Regions from separate parts of the Homo sapiens genome. Here region 1 is linked to region 2. A link means that fine-mapping ties the variant in region 2 to the expression of a gene that starts in the linked region. Tissue or cell type: whole blood. Region 2 holds a variant in brackets; the other region holds the start of a gene. All regions are shown on one strand. Distances are between the middles of the regions.

Region 1 (8,972 bases), 33 kb after region 2:
TTTTTTAGAGACAAGGTCTCACTGTGTTCCCTAGGCTGGAGTGCAGCAGTGGCACGATCACAGCTCACTATAACCTTGAACTCCAGAGCTCAAGTGATCCTCCTGCCTTGGCCTCCAAAAGTGTTCGAATTATAGTTGTGAACCACTGATCCCAGCCTGATTTATTATTGCAATTTACCCTTCATTCATCTAATTCCTCACTTTTCCTAATGCATGCATACATACATATATATTTCCCTCCACAGCACTTTCTGCTTTGTGACAATAAGTTACAAGCCAGATAACCCACTTAGCCTACATGCATATTATGTTTAGTATTTATTGACCGTGTCCTGCTGCTAGAATATCAGTGCTAGCAGAGAAGGGATTTTCATCTGTTTTGCTCGTGTTTTTCTCATCTGTTTTTCTTTGCCTTTTTTTCTTTTCATGCTTTGTCGCCCAGGCTGGAGTGCAGTGGTGCAATCTTGGTTCACTGCAACCTCTGCCTCTTAGGTTCAAGTGATTCTCCTGTCTCAGCCACTCGAGTAGCTGGGATTACGGGTAGGTAGCACCACGCCCCGCTAATTTTTGTATTTTTAGTTGAGATGAGGTTTCACCATGTTGGCCAGGCTGGTTTTGAATTCCTGGCCTTGAGAGATCCACCCACCTCAACCTTCCAAAGTGCTGGGATTCCAGGAGTGAGCCACTGCTCCCGGCTCCTCATCTGTTTTTCTCAGTGTTTGATAAATATTGGCCAGATGAGTCATCACAACGATCCCATGTCAGCTCATGGGCATCCGTCTCCTTCTATTTGATGTCTCTCAGTCTTCTATTCTGTGGATGTGGTTTGTTGAATGAATGAATAAATGAATCACCAAGCGGACAGATGCCTAGCTGAAGAGTGGTTTTCATCCTGAGGGAGGCCACTGGGGCTGTTCAGAGAGTAGGGGTGGCCCAGTTAGATCTGTGCTTTGAAATATTCCAGACTCTTCTGAAGTCTGGGATTTTTTTTTTTTTTTTTTTTTTAGACAGAGTCTTGCTTTATTGCCCAGGCTGGAGTGCAGTGGTGCAATCTTGGCTCACCGTAACCTCTGCCTTCTGGGTTCAAGTGATTCTCCTGCCTCAGCCTCCAGAATAGCTGGGATTACAGGCGTGTGCCATTAGTCCTGGCTATTTTTTTTACTTTTTATTTTCAGAAGAGACAGGGTTTTGCCATGTTGGCCAGGCTGGTCTGGAATTCCTGGTCTCCAGCAATCTACCCGCATTAGTCTCCCAAAGTGCTGGGATTACAGGCGTGAGCCACCATGCCTGGCCAGAAGTCTGGGATTTTGCATGTGCTATTCTCTTTGTCTGGAATATTCTTTCCCTGGGATTGGTCCAACTCCTTCATATCCCAGCTCCGATGCCTCCTCCTCCAGGAAGCTCTCCCTGACCCCCAAGCCTGGTCAAGCATCCCTTCTGGGCTCCCCCATCCCAGCCCTGCCCACTCTGTATCATCACTATCTGTGTCCCCCCCTGAACTTTGAGTCCCAGCAGAACGGGGCCAGAACTGTCTTGTTCGCCACTGGGTCCCTGGTATCACCCATCGCAGGACCCAACACTGGGCTCAGAATACATGACTGTCCCTTGAAGGAAATGTCTAGTTGGAGACAGCCGAGTGCAGGGGTAGCCAGGGTGTCTGATAGGAGATGCAGACAAGGATCAGAAACATCTGAGTTCAGATTTCTTGCTTATGCCTGGGGTTTGGGCCACAGCAAGCCTCATTACCCTTATCTGCTTCCAAATCAGGAAAATGGGAGTGTGAGCTGGTCTCCTGGATTAGTGGGGATAAAACCATGTCTGTGAGCACTGCTAACAGAGATGGAAACCTCTCTGTTGCCTCAGGGCTTCACACGCGTCCTTTGAATGTTTCCACATTATGCCATGGGCTCCTTCTTATCTTTCAGATCTCAGTGCAGATGTCACTTCCTTCCAGTGGCTGAACTGTTCACTCTGTCACTCATAGGATGCTTTTGCTTTCTCCCAACGCTTAGTTCCAGCTGACAGCCCAAGTTTATTGTCTTGTCTCTTCCGCACTAGAATGCACGCTCTAGCAGCCAAGGATTTTGTGTGTGTGTGTGTGTGTGTGTGTGTGTGTGTGATACAGAGTCTGGCTCTGTTGCCCAGGCTGGAGTGCAATGGTGAGATCTCAGCTCACTGCAACTTCTGCCTCCCAGGTTCAAGCGATTCTCCTGCCTCAGCCTCCCGAGTATCTGGGATTACAGGCGTGGACCACCACACCCGGCTAATTTTTTAGTATTTTTAGTAGAGATGGGGTTTCACCATGTCGGCCAGGCTGGTTTTGAACTCCTGACCTCAAGTGATCCGCCCGCCTCGGCCTCCCAAACTGCTGGGATTACAGGTGTAAGCCACTGCACCCGGCCAAGCCCAAGTTTATTGTCTTGTCTCTCTGCACTAGAATGCAAGCTCTAGCAGCCAAGGAATTTTTTGTTTTTTTGTTTTTTTTTTTGATACAGAGTCTCACTCTGTTGCCCAGGCTGGAGTGCAGTGGTGTGATCTCCGCTCACTGCAACCTCTGACGCCTGGGTTCAAGCAGTTCTCCTGCCTCAGCCTCCCAAGTAGCTGGGACTACAGCCGCCCGCCACCACGCCCAACTAATTTTTGTATTTTTAGTAGAGACAGGGTTTCACCATATTGGCCAGGATGGTCTCCATCTCCTGACCTCATGATCTGCCCACTTAGGCCTCCCAAAGTGCTGGGATTACAGGCATGAGACACTGTGCCTGGCCTATTTTCATGTTTTTGTATTTTTAGTAGAGATGGGGTTTCACCATGTTGGCCAGGCTGGTCTTGAACTCCTGACCTCAAGTGATCCACCTGCCTTGGCCTCCCATAGTGATGGGATTACAGGCGTGAGCCACCGCTCCCAGCCTAAATCTTTTTTCCCTTTAGACTGAGTCTTGCTCTGTCACCTAAGCTGGAGTGCAGTGGTGAGATTACAGCTCACTGTAGCCTTGACCTCCTGGCTCAAGCGATCCTCCCGCCTCACCCTCCTAAGTAGCTGGGACTATTGGCGCATACCACCACACTCAGCTTATTTTTTAATTTTTTTGTAGAGACGGAGTCTCGCCATGTTGCCCAGGCTGGTCTCAAATTCCTGGGCTCAAGTGAGCCTCCCACCTTGGCCTCCCAAAGTGCTGGGATTAAGGGTGTAAGCCACTGTGAAATTTTTTTTTTTTTTTTTTTTGAGACGGAGTCTCGCTCTGTCGCCCAGGCTGGAGTGCAGTGGCGTGATCTCGGCTCACTGCAAGCTCCGCCTCCCGGGTTCACACCATTCTCCTGCCTCAGCCTCCCGAGTAGCTGGGACTACAGGCGCCCGCCATCATGCCTGGCTGATTTTTTGTATTTTTAGTAGAGACGGGGTTTCACCGTGTTAGCCAGGATGGTCTCGATCTCCTGACCTTGTGATCCACCCGCCTCGGCCTCCCAAAGTGCTGGGATTACAGGCGTGAGCCACCATGCCCGGCCGAAAAATTTTTTAAAATATTTATTTATTTATTTTGAGACGGAGTCTCACTCTGTCACTAGGCTGGAGTGCAGAGGTGTGATCTTGGCTCACTGCAACCTCCACCTCCCGGGTTCAAGCGATTCTCCTGCCTCAGCCTCCTGAGTAGCTGGGACTACAAGTGCATGCCACCATGCCCAACTAATTTTTGTATTTTTAGTAGAGACAGAGTTTCACCATATTGGCCAGGATGGTCTCGATCTCCTGACCTCATGATCTGCCCACTCTGGCCTCCCAAAGTGCTGAGATTACAGACATGAGCCACCATGCCTGGCCTATTTTCATGTTTTTAAAGATAAGGTCTCACTATGTTGCCCCGGATGGAGTCTAGTGGCTAAATGTGGGCACGATCATAGCTCACTGCAGCCTTGAACTCCTGGCCTCAAGGGATCCTCCTGCTTTAGCCTCCCAAATACCTGGGACTACAGGTGCATGCCACTGAATCCAGCTTGTTCTTCAGTAATAATAACAATAACAGCAATCGCAGCAGTAGTATTTGACTTTCTTCTGAAGGGCATTTTTGTTAGAAACAAAAGAAGAGAGAAAGAACAAAAAATTTTAAAGCACAAATAAATAACTTTTTTTTTTTTGAGGTGGAGTCTCACTCTGTCACCCAGGCTGGAGTGCAGTGGTGAGATCTCGGCTCTTCGCAACCTCTGCCTCCTGGATTCAAGCAATTCTTCTGCCTCAGCCTCCTGAGTAGCTGGGATTACAGGCATGTGCCACCACACCCAGCTAATTTTTGCATTTTCAGCAGAGACAGGGTTTTGCCATGTTGGCCAGGCTCGTCTGGAACTCCTGACCTCAAGTGATCTGCCCGCATCAACTCCCAAAGTGGTGGGATAACAGGCGTGAGCCACTGCGCCCGGCCGTATTATCTCATTTGAACCCTTGCAACACTCAAGGCGGTATGACTTATTATTATTCCCATTTACACATATGAAGACTGAGCCTCATAGAGGTTGTAAATTACCTGAGGCCTCACAGCTGCTGTAGGAGGAAGCTTCTGACATTACCACTACAATCTTTGAGCAAGCATGAAAGCCTGAAATGTCACAGAACAGGCTAGAGATGGGAAAGGAATGAGGATTTCAACACTGTCAGGTGGAGTAAGGAATCATAATTCATTGTTAACCTCCCAAACGGCCACTAACAGAGAATTTGGGGAGGCAGCAGAGTGGGTGCGGTTAGGGGCTTGGGAGGTGGGCATGCACGTGTCATCCTCTCTAGGTGTGGCCTCAAGGTGAATGACTTCCTCTGCCTCTGGGGTTCAAGCGATTCTCCTGCCTCAGGCTTCCAGTAGCTGGGATTACAGGCACGTGCCACCACACCAGGTAATTTTTGTATTTTTAGTAGAGACGGGTTTCACCATGTTGGCCAGGCTGGTCTCGACCTCCTGACCTCAAGTGATCCGCCCGCTTCACCTCCCAAAGTGGTGGGATTACAGGCTTGAGCCACGGCTCCCTAAATAAATACATCAATTTTATTTAAATCTTACAGCAATCATATGAGACAAAAGCTTTTAACACCTGCACTTTATATTCGAGGAATTAAAGTTCTCAGAGGCGACTAAAGACCAAACTCAGGGCTGAGGAGTTCCAAAGCTGAGTTGAGTTGCAAATGAATCACCGAGGACCACCGGAGCTTTCTAGCGACCCTCGCACCAGGGAACGAACCCCTGTGGTTTAAGGGCTCCAACCCACAACCCAGTTCCTTTGGCGGGAAACAGCACCCTCCCAAGGCCCCGCCCCTTCCTGGCCCCGCCCCGTCGTCTCTGGGCCCGGCTCCTGGAGATGGGTATTATTAATCTGCCTTCTATGGGGGACCTGGCCCATCTCGGGTATCAGCCCCGCCCCTACTCGTCCAGTCTCCGAACGCTCTGCAGCCAATCGGCGCCCGAGGGTCGGTCCCCGCCTTCTCAAGCCCCGCCCCCTACCCTTATCCCTGGCAGCTTCCGCTAAACGGGCTCAGAGCCACGCGGCACGCCCGGGAGGCTTTCTCTGGCTGGTAACCGCTACTCCCGGACACCAGACCACCGCCTTCCGTACACAGGGGCCCGCATCCCACCCTCCCGGACCTAAGAGCCTGGGTCCCCTGTTTCCGGAGGTCCGCTTCCCGGCCCCCAGATTCTGGCATCCCAGCCCTCAGTGTCCAAGACCCAGGCAGCCCGGGTCCCCGCCTCCCGGATCCAGGCGTCCGGGATCTGCGCCACCAGAACCTAGCCTCCTGCAGACCTCCGCCATCTGGGGGCACTCAACCTCCTGGAGCCAAGGGCCCCACGTCCCACCCAGAGAAACTCTCGTATTCCCAGCTCCTAGGGCCAAGGAACCCGGGCGCTCCGAACTCCCAGCTTTCGGACATCTGGCACACGGGGCAGAGCAGAGAAGCCTCAGCGCCCAGCCTGGGGAATTTAAACACTCCAGCTTCCAAGAGCCAAGGAACTTCAGTGCTGTGAACTCACAACTCTAAGGAGCCCTCCAAAGTTCCAGTCTCCAGGTGCTGTTACTCAACTCAGTCCTAGGAACGTCGGGTCCTGGGAAGGAGCCCAAGCGCTCCCAGCCAGCTTCCAGGCGCTAAGAAACCCCGGTGCTTCCCATCATGGTGGCCGATCCTCCTCGAGACTCCAAGGGGCTCGCAGCGGCGGAGCCCACCGCCAACGGGGGCCTGGCGCTGGCCTCCATCGAGGACCAAGGCGCGGCAGCAGGCGGCTACTGCGGTTCCCGGGACCAGGTGCGCCGCTGCCTTCGAGCCAACCTGCTTGTGCTGCTGACAGTGGTGGCCGTGGTGGCCGGCGTGGCGCTGGGACTGGGGGTGTCGGGGGCCGGGGGTGCGCTGGCGTTGGGCCCGGAGCGCTTGAGCGCCTTCGTCTTCCCGGGCGAGCTGCTGCTGCGTCTGCTGCGGATGATCATCTTGCCGCTGGTGGTGTGCAGCTTGATCGGCGGCGCCGCCAGCCTGGACCCCGGCGCGCTCGGCCGTCTGGGCGCCTGGGCGCTGCTCTTTTTCCTGGTCACCACGCTGCTGGCGTCGGCGCTCGGAGTGGGCTTGGCGCTGGCTCTGCAGCCGGGCGCCGCCTCCGCCGCCATCAACGCCTCCGTGGGAGCCGCGGGCAGTGCCGAAAATGCCCCCAGCAAGGAGGTGCTCGATTCGTTCCTGGATCTTGCGAGGTCAGCTCCCGCTCCCCCGGGAGGTGGGGAAGAGTGTTACGGATGGCGGGAGTGGTCACGTGGACAGGACGGGGCTTTGGGGCCCCTGGAGCAGAGACTTCCCTCTAGAGTCTTAGGAAAACTCGACAGGATATTGAGGGGAGGCTCCAGCCCTCGGGAGTGTGAGTCTAGTCTCCTGGGGAAGGGGTTTCTAAATCTGGGGGCCTGGGTACATAAGTGGGGTCTTATAGAGGGAGAAGAAAGTGATTTGGGGAGACATAGGAGGGTCTGCCTAGGGGAGAAAGACACTGAGGGGAGGGGACCCCAGGAGGAACTTTTGCGGGGGGAATCTTTGCGTGGTCAAGGGCCCCAAGATGGGGCTTCTAGATATAATTTGGGGCCAGGGTTGGAGAGTTTGGGTAAGGAGCCCCTGGAGGATCTGAGATCTGAGTAACTCCCACCAGGCCCTCTTCCCAGCCCTGGGGCACCCCCACACCACGTGTCACTCGGACATAACCAGGCTCTGTTTTTGGCCTCCGCTTCCCGCCCATTTCAGCTGGGGTCTGGCCGCTTCCCCTTTATCTTTTAGATCAGCCCTGCCACCCCTGCCTTTCCCTCCCGTTTCCTCCTCTGTCTGGGCCACCCCCTAGCAGGCAGCCCAGAAGAGGACCAGTTAGAAAGGGGAGCAGATTCTTTTCCTTCTCCTGGCCTCTGCCCCGCGCCCCCAAGAATGGCCTCCCCCACTTTGAGGAGGGCGGGGGGCAGAGGCCCCCTTGCGCTTGCCTTTAGGGCTTGCTCATTCAGTGTCTCCACGTTGGGGACTTCCTGGAAGTTGGGGGAAGGAAATGATGAGTCACGGAACAGGGTTCTCCAGCCTCTGGGGCGTCAGTGCAGGCTGAGATGCGAGACTGGGGCAGGCTTGGTGTCCCGAGTTGAAGCCTGGGAGCACCTTCTGGCTGGGGGAGATTAGCTGGGTCCTGGCCCAGCCTGGGCCTGGGTGGTACAGGCGGACCTTCAGGCAGGCACACCCACTCCGAGGCTGTTTATGAGCACAGGCCTCCCCTGCGTGCCAAAACAGCTGTAGCTCACACTTGGCCTGCCACACAGGCTTATAACCAAATGACATACAGCTGGACACATTCACGCAGACACTCAGCTGAGGCTGTAGCATCTCGACAAACACATGGCCAGATACCAGCGGTCATACACACGCTCACTGTGTACTAAGACCCCTGTAGCACAGCCATTCAGTGATGCCACCAGCCACGCCAACATCTAAACACAGGCTCAAGAGCACACAATACACACTCACATACACACCTATGTGGTCACACACCAATAAACTCATGCTTTTTTTTTTTTTTTTTGAGACAGTCTCTGTTGCTCAGGCTGGAGTGCAGTGGTGCGATCTTGGCTCATTGCAACCTCTACCTCCTGGATTTAAGTGATTCTCGTGCCTCAGCCTTCCGTGTGCCACCACGCCTGGATAATTTTTGTGTTTTTAGTAGAGACGGGGTTTTGCCATGTTGGCCAGGCTGGTCTCGAACCCCTGACCTCAAGTTATCTGCCCACCTCAGCCTCCCAAAAGGCTGGAATTACTGGCGTGAGCCACCGCACCCGGCCAAACTCATTCCTCTACCATGACGTTATTTTACTGTACCGTGATGCATGGGTGGCCATCCATGGACACTGTCCCATACTACTGAACCTTAACCTGCACCCAAACTATTAACATTTGACAGATTGTATATGGGCACATGGCGTTGGCTGTACACCAGTCATTGGTGAGAGGGAGCATGTGGAGTGCTTGGGGCTATGGAGCCAGCTGGCTGGGTTCAAATCCCAGCTCTGCTATTTCCCAGCTGGGCAATTTTCTTTACCCTTCTGGGCCTCAGCTTCCTTTTCTGTAAAATGGGGTAATAGTGATTATCCCCAAGGCTGTCGTGAGGATGAAATGGGTTAATTTGTGTCAAGCACAGGCCAAAATGCCTGCCTGCCACACGGTAGGTGCTGTAGATGGCTTAGCTGCTATATATATTTTTTGAGAGAGTCTCACTCGGTCCCAGGCTGGAATGCAGTGGCTTGATCTTGGTTCACTGCAGCCTCAACCTCCTCGGGCTTGAGTGATCCTCCCACCTCAGCCTCCAGAGTAGCTGGAACTACAGGCACATGCCACCATGCCTGGCTAATTTTTGTATTTTTTGTAGAGACACGGTTTCGTCATGTTGCCCAGGTTGGTCTTCAACTCCTGGCTCAAGCGATCTGTCTGCCTTGGCCTCCCAAAG
Region 2 (10,228 bases):
AACCCTCCTGCCTCAGCCTCCCGAGTAGCTGGGACTACAAGCGCCTGCCACCACGCTTGGCTAATTTTTGTATTATTAGTAGGGACAGGGTTTCGCCATATTGGCCAGATTGGCCTCAAACTCCTGACCTCAGGTGATCCACGTGGCTCGGCCTCCCAAAGTGCTGAGATGACAGACGTGGGCCGCTGCACCCAGCAGTGATGGTTTATTGTATGTGTCAACTTGATTGGGTTAAGGGGTGCCCACATAGCTGGTAAAACATTATTTCTGTTTGTGTCTGCACAGGTGTTTCAGGAAGAGATACAAAATACAAAAGTTAGCCAGATGTGGTGGTGGGCACCTGTAGTCCCACCTACTTGGGAGGCTGAGGCAGGAGAATGGTGTGAACCCATAGGTGGAGGTTGCAGTGAGCCGAGATCGTGCCACTGCACTCCAGCCTGGGCGACACAGCAAGACTCTGTCAAAAACAAAAACAAAAAAACAAAAAAACAAATACAAACAAACAAACAAAACCCCATCACAGTAATGATGGAAGTAGTTTTGGAGGTGGCAAAAGCTGTAGTAATCTTGGCCATAACAGCAATCAGTCTTCGAATTTTGGATCCATGAAGGGAGGAGGATTTGGAGGCAGAAGCCCTGGCCCCTATGGTGATGGAGGCCAATATTTTGCCAAAACATGAAACCAAGATGGCTATGGCAGTTCCAGCAGCCCTGGTGGCCAGGGCGGTGGCAGAAAGCTTTAGTTACTTTGGGGAAATGAAGCTTAGCCAGCAGACAGAGCCAGGGAAATGACAGGGAAGCTCAGGTTACAAACAGACTTGTGAACTCAGCCAGGCACAGGGGTGGCAGGGCCTGTCTGTTATGAAGAAGGTGTGTTTTTTGTGTTTGTTTGCTTTTTTTGAGACGGAGTCTCGCTCTGTCGCCCAGGCTGGAGTGCAGTGGCGCGATCTCGGCTCACTGCAAGCTCCACCTCCCGGGTTCACGCCATTCTCCTGCCTCAGCCTCCTGAGTAGCTGAGATTTACAGGTGCCAGCCACCACGCCCGGCTAATTTTTTTTAATATTTTTTAGTAGAGACGGGGTTTCACCGTGTTAGCCAGGATGGTCTTGATCTCCCAACCTTGTGATCCGCCTGCCTCGGCCTCCCAAAGTGCTGGGATTACAGGCATGCGCCACCGCGCCCGGCCGTGTTTGATTTGAGACAGGCTCTCACTCTGTTGACAAGGCTGGAGTGCAGTGGCATGATCACAGCTCACTGCAGTCTCAACCCCTGGGCTCAAGCAATCCTCTCACCCCAGCTTCCCGAGTAGCTGGGACCACAGGTGCGTGCCGCCATGCCTGCCTATTTTTTTTTTTTTTTTTTGAGACACAGTCTCCCTCCATCGCCCAGGCTGGAGCTCACTGCAAGCTCTGCCTCCTTAGTTCATGGGAGTCTCCTGCCTCAGCCTCCCGAGTACCTGGGATTACAGGCGTGAACCACCACATCCGGCTATTTTTAAAATATTTTTAGTCGAGATGGGGTTTCACTATGTTGGTCAGGCTGGTCTTGAACTCCTGACTTCAAATCATCCACCCACCTCAGCCTCCCAAGGTGCTGGGATTACAGGCGTGAGCCACCACCCTCGGCTCCTGATTTTTTAATATTTTTTAAAGACGAAGTTCCACTATGTTGCCTAGGCTGATCTCAAACTCCCTGGCTTAAGCAATCCTCCCGCCTTAGCCTTCCAAAGTGCTGGGATTGCAGGCATGAGCCACCATACCCAGTGGAAGATGTATTGGAGACAATACTCATGTATATGGACAAAAAACAAAAACAAAAAACTCCAGGACTGTATTTGTGACTAATCGTATAACAGGTTATTTCAGTTTCTCTTCTGTGGAAAGTGCAAAGCATTCCAACAAAGGGTTTTAATGTAGATTTTTGTTTTGCACCCATGCTGTTGATGGCTAAATATAAGTGTCTGATGATAATGTTGAATAAAAAAAAAAAAAACAAAAAAAAAACCTTAGAGGAAGTTTTGCTATAAAGGGAGAAGAGAAATAGTCGCTAGAGGGGGGAATGAGATTGGAGGGTGTTTGGTGGAGTGGATGATATCACAGCAGGTTTTTGTTTTGTTTTGTTTTGTTTTGTTTTGAGACAGATGCCCAGGCTGGAGTGCAGTTGTGCGATCTCGGCTCACCGCAACCTTTGCCTCCTGGGCTCCAGCGATTCTCCTGCCTCAGCCTCCCAACTAGCTGGGACCACAGGCGCCCGCCACCATACCCCGCTAATTTTTTGTATTTTTAGTGGAGACTGGGTTTCGCCATGTTCGTCAGGCTGGTCTCAAACTCCTGACCTCAAGTGATCCGCCCGCCTCAGCCTCCCAAAGTGCTGTGATTACAAGTGTGAGCCACCGCGCTCAGCTCAAATCATCAGTTTTATGCTGATGGGGATGATGCAACAGACAAGGGGAAACCGGAAGATGCAGGAAAGAGATGGGAGAGGGATGGAAGGCGCAGCTGGGATTATCCAAGCACACGAGAGGCATCTGGGAGGAAGGGGTGCGTGGGCGCCAAGGCAGGTGGTGGTGGTGTTGGTGTGGGGAGTTCCCAAAAGTCCCTACTCCAATGACTTCCTTCTTCTCAGTGAAATGGGAAGCAAGAGTAAGTCTCAGTCAGCTGAGAGTGACAGCCACTCAAGTTGGTGCCCTTAAGACCACGCGGGTGGTGGAGCCTGTGGAGTGGAGATCACCTGTCTTTTATTTTCTTTTAAGACATGGGGGCCAGACGTGGTAGCTCATGCCTGTAATCCAAGCACTTTGGGGGGCCGAGGCAGGCGGATCATCTGAGGTCAGCCTGGCCAGCATGGTGAAACCCCATCTCTACTAAAAATAAAAAAGTTAGCCGGGCATGGTGGTGCACGCCTGTAATCTCAGCTACTTGGGAGGCTGAAGCAGAGGCCGCAGTGAGCTGAGATCGTGCCACTGCACTCCAGCCTGCGTGACAAGAGCGAGACTCCATCTCAAAAAAAAAACAAACCAAAAAACTTAAAAATACTCTGGGGTGGCAAACGAAATGTGGTGGCTGGATGGAGCCCTCAGGCCATGTGTTTGCAACCCTGGTGCAACTGCACTAAAGCACAGGCCAGAGTCAGTTCTGGGCTTTTGAGGGGCTCCAGGGTTTAGAGAACAGAAAGTCGAAGAGGAACCTGAGAAAGCCACCAAACAAGGAAGCTTCTTGTTTTTGTTTTTGTTTCTTTTTGAGACAGACTCTCACTCTGTCTCCCAGGCTGGAGTGCAATGGCGCGATCTCGGCTCAATGCAACCTCCACCTCCCAGGTTCAAGCAATTCTCCTGCCTCAGCCTCCCAAGTAGCTGGGATTACAGGTGCCCACCACCATGCCTGGCCAATTTTTGTATTTTTAGAGACGGTGTTTCTTTTTCTTTCTTTTTTCTTTTTTTTTTGAGACAGAGTCTTTCTCTGTCGCCAGGCTGGAGTGCAGTGACGCCATCTTGGCTCACTGCAACCGCTGACTCCCTGGTTCAAGGAATTCTACTAACTCAGCCTCCTGAGTAGCTGGGATTACAGGCACGTGCCACCATGCCCAGCTAATTCTTTGAATTTTTAGTAGAGATGGGGTTTCACCATGTTGGCCAGGATGGTCTCCATCTCCTGACCTCGTGATCCGCCCACCTCGGCCTCCCAAAGTGCTGGGATTACAGGTGTGAGCCACCGTGCCTGGCGGTTTTATTTGTTTTTTGAGACAGGGTCTCACTCTGTTGCCCAGGCTGGACTGCAGTGGCACTATCATGGCTCATTTCAGCCTTGAATTCCCAGGCTTGGGTGATTCTCCCACCTCAGTCTCCTGGGTAGCTGGGATTACAGGTGTATGCCACCAAGTCTGGCTAATTTTTTGTGTTTTTTGTAGAAATGGTGGTTTCAAGGCCGGGCGCGGTGGCTCACGCCTGTAATCCCAGTACACTGGGAGGCCGAGGTGGGCAGATCATGAGGTCAGGAGATCGAGACCATCCTGGCTAACAAGGTGAAACCCCGTCTCTACTAAAAATACAAAAAAAAAAAAAAAATTAGCCAGGCGTGGTGGCGGGCGCCTGTAGTCCCAGCTACTTGGGAGGCTGAGGCAGGAGAATGGTGTGAACCCAGGAGGCAGAGCTTGCAGTGAGCCAAGATCGCGCCACTGCACTCCAGCCTGGGCAACAGAACGAGACACAGTCTCAAAAAAAAAAAAAAAAAAAGAAATGGCGGTTTCATCATGTTGCCCCGGCTGGTCTCAACCTCTTGGGCTCAAGTGATCTGCTCACCTCTGCCTCCGAAAGTGCTGGAATTACAGGTGTAAGCCACCGAGCCCAGCCTCAAGGAAGCTTCTGAACTGTTAGGGGGAGCTCCTGCTCTAGGCCCAGCAGCTTCCAAGGCTTTAAAGGCATAATCCCATTTAATCTTGTAATGACGCTGTGAAGTGGCTCTTGGTATTAGCATTGCAATTCTGAGTATTATCTCCTCTTTGTAGATAAGGAAGATCATTTGCCCAAGGACACACAATGAGCAGATGAGACTGGAACCCAGATTTCTAGAGTGCTAGACTCTGTGTCTTCCCATTCACTTTATTTTTTATTTTATTTTATTTTATTTTTTTGAGACAGAGTCTCACTCTGTTGCCTAGGCTGGAGTGCAGTGGCACGATCTCAGCTCACTGCAACCTCTGCCTCCCAGGTTCAAGTAATTCTCGTGCCTCAGCCTCCCCAGTAGCTGGGATTACAGGCGTGTGCCACTATGCCTGGCTAATTTTTGTATTTTTAGTAAAGATGGGGTTTCACCGTGTTGGTGAGGCTGGTCTCAAACTCCTGACCTCAAGTGATCTGCCCACTTTGGCCTCCCAAAGTGCTGGGATTACAAGCGTGAGCCACCGTGGCCAGCCATAAAATTTTTTTTTTATTATAAAATATCTGGGCTTTTTTTGTTTTTTGTTTTTTAGTTGGGGCCTTGCTCTGTCACTCAGGCTGGAGTGCAGTGGTGCAATCTCAGCTCACTGCAGCCTCCGCCTCCTGGGCTCAAGTGATCCTCCTGTTACGGGATCTTTGGGGTGTTGCTTTTCTGGCCAGAAACCTCTGTGGCTGCAGTGCCTTTGCCCAAGTTCTTGTCCTGTGTCCAGGAAGAATGAGGTACACAGACAAGTGAAGGGTGAAGAAGATGAATAGGAGCTTTATTTAGTCTTAGAACAGCTCAGAGGAGACCGTCAGTGGGCAGCTCCTCTCAGTAGGCAGGTCACCCCATCGAGTGTTCAGCTCTCAGCAGAGATGAGGCCCTGAAGAGGGTGGTTCCTCTCGGCAGGCAGGTCATGTAGGCGTCTCTGCAGGTCTCTGAAGCTCTCAGTAGAGAGGGTAGCTCCTCTGTGCAGGTGGTAATCCCATTGTCTCTCTGTCCTCTGCCCTCTGCCCTGCTCTGGTGGAGCCTGGGGCTTTTATGGACCTCAGAGAGGAGGAAGTACGTGCTGGTTGGTCCATGGGCTGCCATGCGTGGGCCCAGAGGAGGTACAAGTCCCCACTCTTGTCTGTGGGGTTGGCAGCCTGGCCCCCAGCCTTCAGGCCCTCCCTGGCAAGAAGGTGGGGCCTTACTAGGGACCCCCCACCAACTTCTGCCCAGGAATCCGTCTGCCTCCTGCTGCCATTCATGGCCCCAGGACTGGACCCCAACCCCGATCCCAGATCAGAGCTGGCGCTGGGAGAGAAGAGAGGCCAGGCAGCAGGAGAAGACACCCAGCAGTCTGCAGAGATTGGGGGGGCCTTCCCGGCCTCTGAGAGTGCAGGCTGCAGAGAGGCCCAGGTCCT[C/G]AGCCTCAGAGGGCGGCCACAGCTGCATCCGGGGAGCTCCTGCCCTGCCAACTCGGAAGGGGTGGGGCTCCCACTTGTCCCCGGCTCTTGCTCACTCTGTGGAGCTGGAGGCCTAGGTTGGCAGCCATGGGGGCAGCTGCAGCTGCACCCGGGAGGGCAGACCCTACCTACTTCTGGCCCCTGCAAGAGCACAGGAAGGCTCAATCCACAGTGGCGGTTTGGGCGGCTGCAGTGGCATCTGGGGAACTCCCACCACAGCTCAGAAGGGGCAGGGCTTCCACCGGCTCCATGGAGTGTGTAGCCCCAGCCGCACCTCCCTGCTGCAGCCGGTGTAATGACAGCAGCCACTGCCATCACTCCTGCCTCAGTCTCACTAGTAGCTGGGACTACAGGCGTGCACCACCACGCTAGGCTGATTTTTAAAATTTTTAGCAGAGACAGGGGTCTCCCTATGTTGCGCAGGCTGGTCTCGAACTACTGAGCTCCAGCTCGGCCTCCTGCCTCAGCCTCCCAAAGTGCTGGGATTACAGGTGTGAGCCACTGCGCCAGGCCTAAAATAATTGTTTTGGTTTTTCTTTTTGTTTGAGACAGTTGTCTTCTGTTCTGCACACGCAGCAGGAAATTGGATCTCTACCTCACAGCATACTCAAAAGAGTTGAAATATAACCTATTTGTAGTTATCAGCGACCTGGGTGAAGACACACCTGGCAGAAGGGTGTGGTAGCCTCATTAAACATGAGTGAGAATGAATTCCAGGTGGAGATGGGAGAGATGATTTATTTGCTAGCTGGGGAAAGAAGAGGCAGGCCCAGCCCAGAGGGAGAATGAGAGGCGGAAGATGACATTCGCTGCATGCCTGACACCTGCCTGAAGTTAACCAGGGTCAGCCCGGCCTTTCCTCCCCCGGGATGTCTCCAACTCGGCTGACAACATCCACTTTAATTAATACAGCACAGCAGGACACTTCCTGTGTACAGCTACACGCTAAGGGCCAGGAGTAGCCTAATGTCCTTGAGCCCCAGAGAAACCATCGTGTGTTCAAGCATGCTGTCTGGAAACTTAGAAAGGGCTCATGACTCCTCTCTGCTTTCACACCCCACATCCCATCCAGGGGAAATCCTGTTGACCTTCAAAATGCACCCGAAGTCGGACCCCCCAAAGGCTGGACGCCGTGGCTCACGCCTGTAATCCCAGTACTTTGGGAGGCCTAGGCAGGCGGATCACCTGAGGTCAGGAGTTCGATATCAGCCTGGCCAACATGGTGAAACCCCGTCTCTACTAAAAAATACAAAATTAGCCAGGTGTGGTGGCACACGCCTGTAATCCCAGCTACTCGGAAGGCTAAGACAGGAGAATCGCTTGAAGCTGGGAGATGGAGGCTGCAGTGAGCCGTGATCGCACCATTGCACTCCAGCCTGGACAAGACACAGCGAGACTCCACCTCAAAACAAAAACAAAAACAAAAACAAAAACAAAAACAAAGTCTGAACCCCCAGAGCTAGTCTAGCCATGATCATTTCTCACCTGGAAAATTGCAGTCACCTCCTCGCTGCTTCTGCCCTTGTCCCCAACAGAAAGGTCCCCATATGGCAGCAGAATCCTTTGACAGAAGTGACATGATGTCATTCTCCTCCTCAAATCCCTTCTGTGGCTCCTGCCACACTCACTAAAAGACAACATCTTCACCATGACTCACCAGCTCCCTGTTCTCTGTCTGACCTCATCTTCCACCCGCTCTTCCTCTGTTCCATGCAGACTGTGACTGGCTTTTTTTGTTTTTTTTTTTTTTTGAGACGAAGTCTCGCTCTGTCACCCAGCCTGGAGTGCAGTGCCGTGATCACGGCCCACTGCAACCTCTGCCTCCCGGGTTCAAGTGATTCTCCTGCCTCAGTCTCGCCTCCTGAATAGCTGGGATTACAGACGCCCACCACTACTACACCCAGCTGATTTTTTTTTGTATTTTAGTAGAGACGGGGTTTCTCCATGTTGGCCAGGCTGGTCTTGAACTCCTGACCTCAGGTGATCCGCCTGCCTCGGCCTCCCAAAGTGCTGGGATTACAAGGGTGAGCTACCGTGCACAGCCAAGGGTATTGGTTTCTTATTGCTCCTGTAACAAATGACCATACACTTAGTGGCTCCATAGGAGACAGATTTATTTACTACCTTACTGTTCTGGAGGTTTTTTTTTTTTTTTTTTTTTACCACAGGGTCTGGCTCTATGATGCAGGCTGGAGTGCAGTGGCCTGATCATGGCTCACTGCAGCCTCAGCCTCCTGGGCTCAAGCAGTTCTCCTGTCACAGCCTCCCAAGTAGCTGAGACTACAGGTGTGTGCCACCATGCCCGGCTAATTTTAAAAAATTTTTTGTAGAGACTCTTCCTATGTTGCCCAGGCTGGTCTCCAACTCCTGGGCTCAAGCGATCTTCCTGCCTCGGCCTCCCAAAGTGCTGGGATTACAGGCATAAACCATTGCCCCAGGCCCCCAAAATGGGTTTTACAGGGCTAATATCAAGGTGTTGGCTGGGCTGCATCCCTTCTGGAGACTCTAGGGCTTCTCCTGGAGGCTCTCTTGCCCTGTCCAGCTTCAGGAAGCTGTCCACATTCCTCAGCTCAAGGCCCTCCTTGCATCACTCTAACTGAGGCAGGAGAATAGGGTCTGGAGCCAGAGAGCCTAAGGCCAATTCATGATGACTGGATATCAGAGGCTACTCCCCTTTCAAACCCTCCTTTTTCTGCATGGCTGTTGAAAAATGAAAGTACCTCTGAGTGGTCCCCTCCTGTAACCAATCAGACTGGTCCTGAGCCTACTCTTCATTCTGATTGGCCCCCTCCTGCAACCAATCAGACTGGCTGCGGGCCTATGCATCATTCTAATTGGTCCTCTCCCACAACCAATCAGACTGGTTACAGGCCTACTCTTCATTCGAATTGGTCCTCTCCTACAACCAATCAGACTGGTCACAGGCCAATGGGAAACTTCCAGAGGGTATTCAAATCCCCAAAAATTCTGTAACGGACACTTTTCAGCTGCTAGCTTGAGTCCACTCCCACCCTGTGAAGTGTGCTTTCCTTTAAAATAGATCTCTGCTTTTGCTGCCTTGCTTTGTGCGTTTCCTCTGCCTCCCGGGTTCAAGCAATTCTCTGCCTCAGCCTCCTGAGTAGCTGGGATTACAAGCACGTGCCACCACACCCAGCTAATTTATATATTTTTAGTAGAGACGGGGTTTCACCATCTTGGCCAGGCTTGTCTTGAACTCCTGACCTTGCGATCCACCCGCCTCGGCCTCCCAAAGTGCTGGGATTACAAGCGTGAGCCACCGCACCTGGCTGAGTATTGCAATTCTACATGAGATTTGGGTTAGGACACACACCCAAATCATATCACGGGGATTTGCTGTTTCCCAGGTTGGTCTCAAACCCCTGGGCTCAAGGCATCCTCCCGCCTCAGCCTCTCAAAGTGCTGGAATTACAGGCATCAGCCACTGTGCCCGGCTGAACTATATTCTTTCTTTTTTTTGAGAAAGAGTCTTAGTCTGTCACCCAGGCTGGAGTACAATAGTGTGATCTCAACTCACTGCAACCTCTGCCTCCCTGTTTCAAGCGATTCTCATGCCTCAGTCTCCCAAGTAGCTGGGATTACAGGTGTGTGCCACCATGTCCAGCTAATTTTTTGTATTTTTTTTTTTTAGTGGACGTGAGGTCTCACTATGTTGGCCAGGCTGGTCGCAAACCCCTGGCCTCAAGTGATTTGAAAGCCTCCGCCTCCCAAAGTGCTGGGATTAGAGGCATAAGCCACTGTGTCCAGCCTTATACACTCTTTCTTTCTTTTTTTTTTTTCTGTCACCCAGGCTGGAGTGGAGTGGTGTGATCTCTACTCACAGCAACCTCTGTCTCCTGGATTCAAGTGATTCTCGTGCCTCAGAGTAGCTGGGACTATAGGCACGCACCACCACAAGCAGCTAATTTTTATATTTTTAGTAGAGATGGGGTTTCGCCATGATGGCCAGGCTAGTCTCGAACTCCTGGCCTCAAGTGATCCGCCCGCCTCAGCCTCTCAGAGTGCCTTATACTCTTTCTTTCTTTCTTTTTTTTTTTTTTTGAGACGGAATCTCACTCTTGTAGCCCAGGCTGGAGTGCAATGGCGTGATCTCGGCTCACTGCAACCTCCACCTTCCAGGTTCAAGCAATTCTCCTGCCTCAGCCTCCTGAGTTGCTGAGATTACAGGTGCCTGCCACCACACCTGGCTAATATTTTGTAATTTTTTTTTTTGTAGAGACAGGGCTTCACCATGTTAGCCAGGATGGTCTCGATCTCCTGACCTCGTGATCCGCCCGCCTCGGCCTCCCAAAGTACTTGGATTACAGGTGTGAGCCACCGCGCCTGGCTGCCATATACTCTTTCTCAAGA

Evidence for each region. PIP is the estimated chance that this variant, and not a neighbour inherited with it, causes the effect.
Region 1: SLC1A5 starts here. The variant in region 2 is fine-mapped to the expression of SLC1A5 in whole blood (INTERVAL, PIP 0.99).

Annotation. Positions count from the first base shown.
Region 1 is chr19:46,785,136-46,794,107 of GRCh38, reverse strand. SLC1A5 (solute carrier family 1 member 5) reads left to right here and starts at 5,514. Exons shown (of 8, transcript NM_005628.3): 1 at 5,514-6,708. The coding sequence starts at 6,143. RefSeq lists silencers at 5,197-5,356, 6,327-6,376, 6,387-6,436 and enhancers at 5,302-5,596, 5,245-5,846, 7,653-8,254, 8,255-8,856, 8,857-8,972 and 1 more.
Region 2 is chr19:46,817,409-46,827,636 of GRCh38, reverse strand. No RefSeq gene overlaps it. Among named protein-coding and RNA genes, the nearest start is that of SNAR-E, 8.2 kb to the left of the region's middle. RefSeq lists enhancers at 5,718-5,777, 5,948-6,067. The variant C/G (reference allele first, on the strand shown) is at 5,822.